2 separate regions of the Homo sapiens genome follow, and region 1 is linked to region 2. A link means that fine-mapping ties the variant in region 2 to the plasma level of a protein whose gene starts in the linked region. Region 2 holds a variant in brackets. A gene starts in the other region. All regions are shown on their forward strands.

Region 1 (5,328 bases), not on the chromosome of region 2:
AGTTCTCACTATATTGCCCAGGCTGGTCTTGAACTCGTGAGCTCAAGCAATCCTCCTGCCTCAGGCTTCCAAAGCCCTAGGATTACAGGCATGAGCCACCACCCCCACGCTGTAATTCTTAAATGTTTGATGGAATTCATTCCACCTGGCCCTGGACTATTCTTCATGAGACAGGTATTTTTGCAGACTCCCCTGTGAAAAGAATGGAAACCTTGAGAATCTTCATTGTCCAAGGACTTCTGAGAGGTAGAACAGAGATAGAGAAAGGGAAAGAGAAGGAGAGAGAGAGAGAGAAAGAGAGAGAGAGTGAGAGCGAGTGAGCAGTGGTGTCATGTGGCATTTCAAAATGCCTGGCATTTTCCTAAAAGTACCCTGCCCAGTCCCCAACCCCCTAGCCATACAGCCCGACCCAGCGGGCTTGCAGGGTGACTGATTTCGTGAATGTCGGTTCTCAGGCTGCCAGGCTGCTGCTTCTCAAGGATGACCCAGACTTAGAGAAGTCTCTGGTGTCAGGCAGAGGACACTGGGTGGGGGACAGGAGGAACTGCTCAAAACAGACAGAGGCTCTTTGTTTGCTTTGCTTCTGTGTCAACTGGGCAACATTTGGAAACAACAAATATTGGTTCAGAGGCCCACTGCTTTCTTACCCACCTCCTGCTGGTCAGCTTTTCCAGCTTTCCTGCACGTACACACAAGCGCAGCTATTTCTTTAAGGGCCAACTCGTGGTTGAAATTTGAGAGTTTTGCCCTGTTTGCGGTGAAAGATTTGGCTCATGCTTGGGTTGGTCTAGAACTGGAAGCTTCCTTTATGTCCTCTATCAATCTCTTTCTCTTTCTCTTTCTCTCTCACCTCCCTCCCTCTCTTTCCTCCCCCACTAAATAAATAAAGAGAAGGTCAATATCAAGAAGGCAGCTGTGGTCTGGAGAAGGGCAAGATTTAGGAAGTTTGAGTTCAGGTCTCAGAGCTCCATGAATAAGGACCCATCATTTGACTGTAATGACCACATGTGATAAATGGAGGTACTGATCTTATCTTGCATGGCTGCCCCAATGATCTTGCCCCAGGACAGTGCCTGACACATACAAGGGGATAAAAACATGATATTTTCTTCCAGCTGAGCATAATCAAGCCAGTCCATGTCTAAGGATCTGCAGTTGGTACTCAGACCTCTCCCAGACTGACCAGCCCCTGTGCTGGCAAAGCCCTGGGGGCTGTGTGCTTTTGGAGAAATGGCAAGGCTGGGAGTCTCATGTCTGTCCCTCTCTCGGTGTGACCCCAGATGAGCTCCTTGGCCCCTGCATGTCCTGGTTTCCTGGGAGAGGCAGTGTCCCTGGTGGATGTGTACACTCTGGAACCAGACTGCCTTCTTTTGTATTCTGACTTTGCAGCTGACCTTGAACAAGATATCATCCTCTCTTGTCCTCAGTTTCCTTGTCTCATCTGTAAGATACAGATGCTAAAGCACCAAAGTCAGAGGGGTATGGTAAGTGCTCAGTGAAGCTCCCAGTAAATCTCAGCCATCATTAAGCTATTAAAAGGGACAGTGATTCTCCAACTCCAGAACATCTCTGGTATAGAATTAAAGAATATAAATGAGAGCACAGGTACAAGTGTCATGGACATGGAGCGCTGTAATGTTAACCTCTTACCTTCACATGCTCCTATAGACATATACAGGCATAGGCACCCCATACAGCTAGGGCCATGCACACATGTACACCCCAAAGCTGGCCTCACCCCTGCCTACCCCATCCAAGGAATGGCAAGCACGAAGCTCTGCTGTTGTCCTCTTGAGCAAAAGCCAAGGCCCTGGCCTCTCCATCTAGGTGTGTGTAGATGACGTGGGAGCACCAGTTCTCTATGTCTTGTCTGAGCTTCCTTCATATCCCATGAGGCTGTATATTTCCTTCCCAGCACCTGTCTTGGGCTTGGACTCAAAGGACCCTTCTGAGGACAGGGCATAGAGCTGGCTGCTCTGGAGAGGACTCAGCCTGGCCAGTAGGTAGTTGCTCCCTGCTGAGGGGCTCTGGCTAGGCTATGGGCCTGTGGCTGGAGGACTGGCCTCAGCGGGGCTTAGTCTACGAATGTAGATGGGCTCCAGAAAAGGAGAATCACTGACCATCTTCTTTCCATGCCCTGCGTTGAGCTTCCCTGAGTTTGTGGCATGGGCTCAACCTTTCGTAACTGCACTTCCTGCTCTCTGGCAGACCCTGCAAGCTTACTACAGGGCCTGTCCATGCATCAGCTGTATGTGTGCATGCTGCTCTGCTGGGTGCCTTCCAGTTAGCCTTGCCCCTGACTTTTCCTGCTCATCTCACATCCTTACCTCAAGGTCTCCAAATGAATCCAGACCACTGCCTAGAGCCTGCTGCAGGGGCAGTAGGAATATGGCCCTCATGCTAACAGTCTTCTTTCCCTATGGCTCAAGCACAAGGGGCCCGTGGACGGGCAAGGGGGGAGTAAGACAGGGCAGCAGTGGTCACTCTCCCTCGCTGGTGAGGCTGATGTGTTGGGAAAGCCAGACTTGACTTCTGTCCTCACTGTAAACAGAAAGCTTCTGTAGTGGACTCTAAAGTGGGAGGTATGTAACCCCTTTGCATATGAGATAATCTTTTGGAGTGTGGGAGAACATAATCTAACTTCCAGTTATATTTATTGTTATTGCAAAAGATTAACAAATTATCATTCATTCATATTGAATGTGTGAATTGGCCCTATCTCCCACCTGAGTCTGCAGTCATGACAGATGGAGCCTTTCAGGTGTCCTAAGGGAAGATGGGGTTCACCTCACAATGCTAAAGGTGAAAAGGGGAGTGCCGACCCTGCCCTTTGTTTTGGCATTTTTATTTCCATACTTTGTGGTTTGTATGTGCCCAGTTAAACGGATGTACAGATTAGATAATCTGGCTTTAACTCCAACCTTCACGAGATGCACACATGCCTTAAAAAGATTCTTACAAAGAAACTAGAATTAGGAGACAATTCTGACAACACAAAAACAAGTGAACAAAAATCAAATGACTGACCTGACGTGTCCACTAGGCTTGATATGAGCTTGGTCAACTAAAACATGAGACAGAATGAATGACCATCTGGTCAGGTTGGATAAGAAGTAACTTTTGGCAAAATCTCTGAAGTCTGGATTTACACTTCGTGGAAGGAATCTTGACCTTTCCCCAAGTATATTATGCCTTGAGATAATAATCCTGTATAAGGCCGCATAAGCAAAACGACATTTGAAAATGAGTTTCATCTTTAGCTCATCCTTTTACAAATTTCTATTCCTTGTGCATGATTGAAGTGTACACATTTTTTAGTTAAAATATAAGCATATAGAAGGCACAAGTTCAATATTTTTCATGATAAGGATGTGTAATTAAACTGGTTAGGAGACTCATCGACTAGAGGGGGACATGGTGGCCCCAGGCTGTAAGAACAGGCCACACCGTCCACTGGGCCGCTTGCTTTGTGCTAAGATGACACTTTGTTCTGAGCCTCACAGTGTCTTGACCATGTTCCTGGAACCTTCTTGTTGGAGGGAGTTCATCTTCCCCTATGACTCTGTCCCTAGTCTAAGGTGTCCCACAGGAAGCTTGAGGGCGGGAAGTTTTCCAGCCCAGGAGCCTGAGCTCAGCGGGGCAGGAAGAGGGAGCAGCTCCTCCGTGGGGGACCTTTGAGAGCCCAGGAGCAGGATTTCGAGGGACACCTGGTGGGGAGCAAAAGGTGCTGAGTCTGTCTTTGACCTTGAGCCCAGCTTGTTTCTCCTGCATCCTCCCCCAAAAGGGGCTTTGCCTGTCATTCTGCAGTTCTAGTGTGGGGTCTGGGCGCAGTTCTTTTCCCTCTCCAGCCTCGGAGTCTTCCTCTGTGGACTGCGCAGATAGGACTGGTGGCACGGACCAGCTCTGCAGCCCTGGAGTCAGGAGCAGAGCCCCCCGGCTCCCAGCCCGCCGTAGCCGCTCCTGGCACCGAGCGAGCCGCGATGACAATGGCTGCATTGTGCTTCATGTCCCTTCCCATCAACATTTCTGTGCTGGACTCCTTCCACTCGCGGGTCGTCTCCAGAGCTCAGAAAATGAGGTGATCAGTGGGACGAGTAAGGAAGGGGGGTTGGGAGAGGGGCGATTGGGCAACCCGGCTGCACAAACACGGGAGGTCAAAGATTGCGCCCAGCCCGCCCAGGCCGGGAATGGAATAAAGGGACGCGGGGCGCCGGAGGCTGCACAGAAGCGAGTCCGACTGTGCTCGCTGCTCAGCGCCGCACCCGGAAGATGAGGCTCGCCGTGGGAGCCCTGCTGGTCTGCGCCGTCCTGGGTGAGTGCGGGCACGGGGTAGCACCGCAGAGTCGCTGGCCCGCGCGTTCCCTGCAACCCGGGCGGCCACCGCGCAGCCTGCATGCACTCCGCGCTCAGGCTGGAAGCCTGGGTGTCTGGGTGCCTTTCCATTGCCTCTCTACGCCCCACCCCTGGCCTTTGCTTGGGCTTCTAGACACCTTTCACTGCACTCACTGTCTTCTCCCCCTCCTCCTCTTTGTCCAGTAAATCTTGCAGCAGTGAAATACAATAAATCAGAGCACGTCTAACCAGGTTATCAAAACCCTTTGCTGCTGCCTCTTGTCAAGTCCGAACTCCTTAGCATGGCATTCAAGGCCTCCCGGGTCTGACCATTCCCCTTTCAGAGGCTGATGTCCCCTGGGTGCCCTGGGAGCTGTAGATGTCCTGCCAAGGAAGCGGTGCCATCGAGCGGTCAGAGCATGGGGTTTGAAGCCAGACTTCTTGGATCCAAGTCCTGGCCGGCTCCTCACCAGGGAGGGGGTCATCACAGCACTTGCCTGGGAGGGTCAAATGAGGGTCAGCGAGGTGGCAGATGCTGAGTACCAGTGGCAGATGTTGCACACATCCTGCTATGGGGCAGTGGCTGACGCCACACTCCCCGACCTCCTGAGGTGGGGCCCCCTTCATACTCTAACTTCTGCCTGCCATTCATGGGGCATTTGTCACACTGTTGGGGCTTCCACGTTTAGTTTTCTCTCCCCATAAGCTAGCAATTCCTTGAGAGAGGACCCCACGTTACTTGCCTTTATCCCCGCACAGAGCACTTCACAGGCTGTGCAAGGTAATGCTCCACTGAGGACACATTCTCGCCTATGGGAACTCTGGAGGCAGGGCTTTGTGGAGGGGCTGCCACAGGCTTATGTTGCCTCCTAGGATTTCCCATGGGCCAAGAGGGAAAATGGGGGTCGCTGGGGTGGCCATCCCTGGTGGCCCCTCCTCATGCATCCTGGAGAGCTGTGGGCCTCCTCTCCACAGGCTTTGTGGATCTTCTTCAGA
Region 2 (5,377 bases):
AAAACAAAAAAACGAAAACCCAAAAGCCTGGCCAGGAGATAAGTACCTGATAAAATCATTCTTTTCAAGGAATGCCAGGAACCCAGATTTGAAGGTTGACCATGTCAACCTCTTCAGTCTCTGGCTCCTCTCAAGAAAAAAATGTGATAAATAGATAAGACTAAATTATAATTAGCATTTCAGTAGTTGTTTATACAGTACTTCAAGGTCCTTAAAAGCAGTTCTTTCTAAGCCTCTTAAATGTTTAGGCATGCTATTAATCTGTGTTATAAAGATGACAACTTATTTAGCAAATGTACACAGCAGTCTAGCCAATTATGACGAACTTCAAAATAGCAGAGTCCAAACCAATAGACTTTATTGATGTGTGTTTGCCCATGCTACTAATTTAGCATTTGAAGTTAAATTTAAAAGCAAAGCGCTTAATGTGAAGCTGCATCAGTTATTAACTAATGACTTATACATTCTTACACATTAAGTACATATATACAATGCATTTTAAGATGAAAAGAAAACTTTAAATAGGCCGGGCGCAGTGGCTCAGGCCTAATCCCAACACTTTGGGAGGCCGAGGTGGGCAGATCACCTGAGGTCAGGAGTTCAAGACCAGCCTGGCCAACATGGTGAAACCCCATCTCTACTAAAAATACAAAAATTAGCTGGGTGTGGTAGCAGACCCCTGTAATCCCAGCTACTCGGGAGGCCAAGGCAGGAGAACGCTTGAACCCAGGAGGCGGAGGTTGCAGTGAGCCGAGATCACACCATTGCACTCCAGCCTGGGGGACAAGAGCGAGATTGTCTCAAAAAAAAAAAAAAAAAGAAAAAAAAGAAAAAGAAAAGAAAAGAAAACTTTAAATAGACTATAAAGTGTGATGAACTCCCTAGTCAACTGGCAAGTGCTCTCTTTTCCAAAAGATTCAAGCAGAGGAGGATCAGTCATCAGATAGGAGGTGTCCAAGGCTCCCACTGCTTGGGAGGCAGAACTCTCTAGATCTGGGAATCGCAGCTCTAGATAGGGGCCAACTCAGGAATTACTGTGAAGCCCTTGAAATCTTCAGATACAAAATATACCTCAAGACGTTCTAATAAAAAGTTTTGGGTAGAGTTCTAGAGACAGCAGATTTAAAACATGGGTGAGGCTCTGACAAAACTTGATGATAGTGCAGATAGTACACTTTGCTGATGATTTCAAAATCTAAGCTAAAGCACTGCTCCCAAACTAAGAATTAATGTGCTGCTATAAGCCTAAACTTATAAAAATCATTGTTAAACTCTGCTTTCTAAGTAAGACCTTTAGGGGTACTTTGACTCTTTTAGTTGTTAAAGCCAGTACTAAATTGGATATTATCTCCATCCAGCGTAAATGTGTTCACCATTTTATAGATGGGAAGCATGAAGCCAGAGAGATAAGGCATTTTCCCTACATCATACAGCAAATAAATGACAGTTTGTAATATAATTCAAATATCTCCATTCAATAACTAGAAACCACAACAGTCATATAGCTAACCATTCTTGAGCATGGTTTTTAATTCTTTACATGATTTTTTGTATTTATTTTCCAATCTATAATGTAGGTACTACTGTCATTCTCATTTCACATCTGGGGAAATGAAGCACAGAGTGGCTATACAGCCTCTTCGAGGTCACACGCAGCTAGTAAAAAGAGGCAGGAGTGAAATTCAGCCAGCCTATCTCCCCAGTCCATGGTCTTAACCACTATACTCTCACCCTTGATTTTTCTACCAACTTCCCCATTGTAACTGTTTGTGGGTGCTGTATCTATTAGATAACCATAAATGACCCAGGTGTAGAGCAAGTCCTCCAACAGTGCAAAGACAAAATGAAACCACTAGGGTGTCTTTTTGTCTAATTATCAATAACCAGGATCAGCCCAAAGGAGGCAAATGTACCCCCAATCCCCCAACTAGCCACAATTCTTGTCATCACTTGTGGTCTTTTGGTTCAGGGCCTCAGTGCTCTGAGAATTCCTAACTCTACCAGCATTCACATTAATTTTACTGAGGCATTCTCTCCATGTACACAGTTGTTTGTTTTATAGAAATGTAAACACATTTCACCACTCACTGTTGCTTAAATACCTTCTATGATATTCTTGCCAAATGGCCTGGAAATTTGAAACCTCCCATGGTAGCTCATTCCATGTTTGGACAACTTTAAATGTCAGAAATTTCTTCCTCTCATTGAAACTAAATCTATCTGTAGCTGCCTTTTATTTTCCCTAGTTAATAACTTTTAGGTTTAATCTGATTTTTCTTATTTTGAGCATTTAATAAAAATGACAGACCTTATCTCCAGGAAAAAAAAATTTAGACATGAATAAAAACTTGTACAATCTTTGCGGAATTGCAGTGTTCTGAAGGCCTATGAATGGTCTATGGACTTTGGACTTAGAAACTCTCTTTTAATAACAGCCCTTCAAATACCATAAGGCAAGTGTGTTCCCCCCCTTTACTGATGTACTGTGTTCAAGTACTTATACCTCTCTTCTCTCTCCACGGAATTGCATCTGCTTAGATTTTGCTGCCCATTTCAGCCCACGGAAACCTTTCTAAATCAAGTTCTATGATCTAATCTATTCACTTCCCCTCCTTGGAGTTGCTTTTAGGCTTCATCAGCATG[C/T]TCTAGTCTTTTCAACACAGCCAATGGAAAGATATGGGCTGGGAAACAGCTGGAAACAAAGCACTGTAGTTGGCAACTAGCAACCTGCCTCTCAAAGAATGTCATTCAGTGTAAGTAGGATGTGTCCAGGACATTTTTTGCAAAGATCATTTACTGCGACCAAAGTCCATGAATACACAAGGAAGTGTGCATATTTAACAAGCAGAATATAATCATACGCAGTTAACTTTATTCCCAATAGAGACCTGCTTTTGTTCTGTTTTCTTCTAGGTTGGCTAGGTCAGGAATTGGACTAACCAACTCAGGGAGTATGAAAACATGTGAGCCACATGATTAAGAGCTTAAGTACTGATTGCAAAATTTCCTTTTATAGTCTAGCATGTGACCTTATGAAACTCACATATTTTCCCAGGTCTGAAGACCCCAAAACTTTTAGCCTTCCTACGTACATAGAATGGCTACCCAGTGGCCATTCTTTTGGCTTGAAAGATTCTCATGGTCACTAATTTAAATGCCATGTTTGGTATTAAGGGATACTTTAGTAGTTTAATTTACTTGTTTTAAAATAAACTTTTTCATGGCTTTGAGGGCAACTTTTACTTCTAGTGTTCTAGAGTTTTATGGACAAGTTCACATTCACCCTGTCCATGTACTCCATAGATTTTATAAATGAAGTCATATCCCTTTTAAAGTTTATCACTTCAAAACTAAGAGTTGTAATGAAGCCAGCATTGAGGAGTAGAAAGAAAATTGAAAATGATCTGTCAGGGGACCCTATTCTGTTATTAACCACCCAAGAAATTGTGGACAATTAAATTATCCTTTCTGGGCCCCTTATTTCTCATATGTAAAAAAAGAGGTCGTGACTTCTTCTCTAAGGCCTCCTCCATTTTTCAAAATTCTGTCATTCTCATTTTCTTAAATTAGAAGGGTGCACTAAACCATCAGAAGTAAGACAAACAGGCCAGGTGTAGTGGCTCACGCCTGTAATCCTAGCACTTTGGGAGGCCGACGTGGGTGGATCACTTGAGGTCAGGAGTTGGAGACCAGCCTGGCCAACATGGAGAAACCCCGTCTCTACTAAAAATACAAAAATTAACCGAGCATGGTGGTGGGCGCCTGTAACCCCACCTACTCAGGAGAATCACTTGAACCCTGGAGGCCGAGGTTGCAGTGAGCCGAGATCGTGCCCCTGCACTCCATCCTGGGAGACAGAGTGAGACTCCATCTCAAAAAAAAAAAACAAAAAACAAAACTAAGACAAAGAGTAGCATCTGGATTCCTTTCTGTGCATTAAACTTCAAAACAAAGTATTATTTTAATATACAAGGGCTATCATACAATATAATTTCATTTTATTCATGGTACATAGTAGATCACAGGATACAATCCCTCTAACCCAGTGGTTCCTAAACTTGGTTGCAGGTTGGAAACACCTGGGGAATTTTTTAAATGGCTTTTGCCTAGATCTTACTATATTAGCCCATGTTCACACTACCATAAAGATACTACCTCAGATTGGGTAATTTATAAACAAAAGAGGTTTAATTCACTCACAGATCTGCATGGCTGGGGAGGCCTCAGGAAACTCACAATCATGGCAGAAGATGAAAGGGAAGCAGACACCTTCTAGGCATCAGGAGAAAGAACGCCAAGCAAGTAGGGGAAGCCTCAACCTTTAAACCCTCAGATCTAATGAGAACTTGCACAAGAACAGCATGAGGGAAACCGCCCCCATGATCCAATCACCTCCCACCAGGTTCCTCCCTTGACACAGGGAGATTACAATTCGAGATGAGATTTGGATGGGGACAGAGAGCCAAAATCTTACCCCCAAATCGTCTGATTTAATTGGTAAAGGGTAATAAGGCCTGATAGAGCAGCAAGAGTATAAAAACTTCTGCAGGTGCAAACAGTTGTTCAAATCCAGAGTCCTCAATTCTGGCTGCATACAAGAATCACTCGGTGATTTTTCACACCTGCCAATGCCTAGCCCCACCTCCAGATTCTGATTGAATTGGCCTGTGGGACCTGGGCCTTGATAGGCTTTAAAACTCTCCAGGTGGTTCTGATGTGCAGTCAGCGTTGAGAACCATTCTTCTATTCCCTACCACACAAGTTCTATCTAGTTGATCATCCTGACCTCCTACTCCATCCCACAGTGGCCACTCATTGAATGAAAGAACCTTGGACCTTATTAAAAGGTACAACTCTACCTTCATTATATCAACCTCGTGCCAACTTCCTGCTTTTTCTCTAGAATCATAAGCCTTTCATCTTGTCAATTAACCAACGCTCCCTATCCTGTGACTTGACCTGTTTTTTGATCTCTCAAAAGCTTCTTTTCAGATTGCAACCCCGCTCCTTTCTATCACCTCCTGTCTGCTTCATTCATCACTCTCTCCAGTAGTTTGAGTGCTTTTGCCCATTACTTCAAACTTCCGGATTATCCTGACCAAATTTCTCCTATGATTCCAAGCAACTACTATTAAAGAGAATCTAAAAGACACATCAAACTGAAAAAAATCTCATTATGGCCAACAAACCAGCAAATGCTGGGCATAATATAGCAAGAGAATTAAAAACTCACACACATGCATTAGAATGATTTATAAAACTATGACACTTTCTTCCATGGAAACTTGGTTGTAGTTTTGGCCATGTGCTTTAAGAAATATAAGGATCAACCCAGAAAAAGAACAGAGATGAGAACTGCATATTATCAAGGGAATTA

Which allele goes with the higher level. Alleles are on the strand shown, and positions count from the first base shown. The strength of an association depends on the size of the effect and on how common the allele is.
For the plasma level of the protein whose gene starts at base 4,222 in region 1, T is the high allele of the variant in region 2 and C is the other (weak association).

The links. A credible set is the group of variants that fine-mapping cannot tell apart. PIP is the chance, under the fine-mapping model, that this variant and not a neighbour inherited with it causes the effect. Protein levels are from antibody-based Olink assays in UK Biobank. Linkage for the fine-mapping came from a reference panel and not from the study's own genotypes, which makes the PIPs less certain.
Region 1: TF starts here. The variant in region 2 is the best candidate, but not a certain one, in a credible set for the plasma level of the TF protein (UK Biobank, PIP 0.82).

Annotation. Positions count from the first base shown.
Region 1 is chr3:133,742,172-133,747,499 of GRCh38, forward strand. It overlaps TF (transferrin), which reads left to right and starts at 4,222. Exons shown (of 17, transcript NM_001063.4): 1 at 4,222-4,312. The coding sequence starts at 4,270.
Region 2 is chr2:189,520,118-189,525,494 of GRCh38, forward strand. No RefSeq gene overlaps it. Among named protein-coding and RNA genes, the nearest start is that of SLC40A1, 58 kb to the right of the region's middle. The variant C/T (reference allele first, on the strand shown) is at 2,644.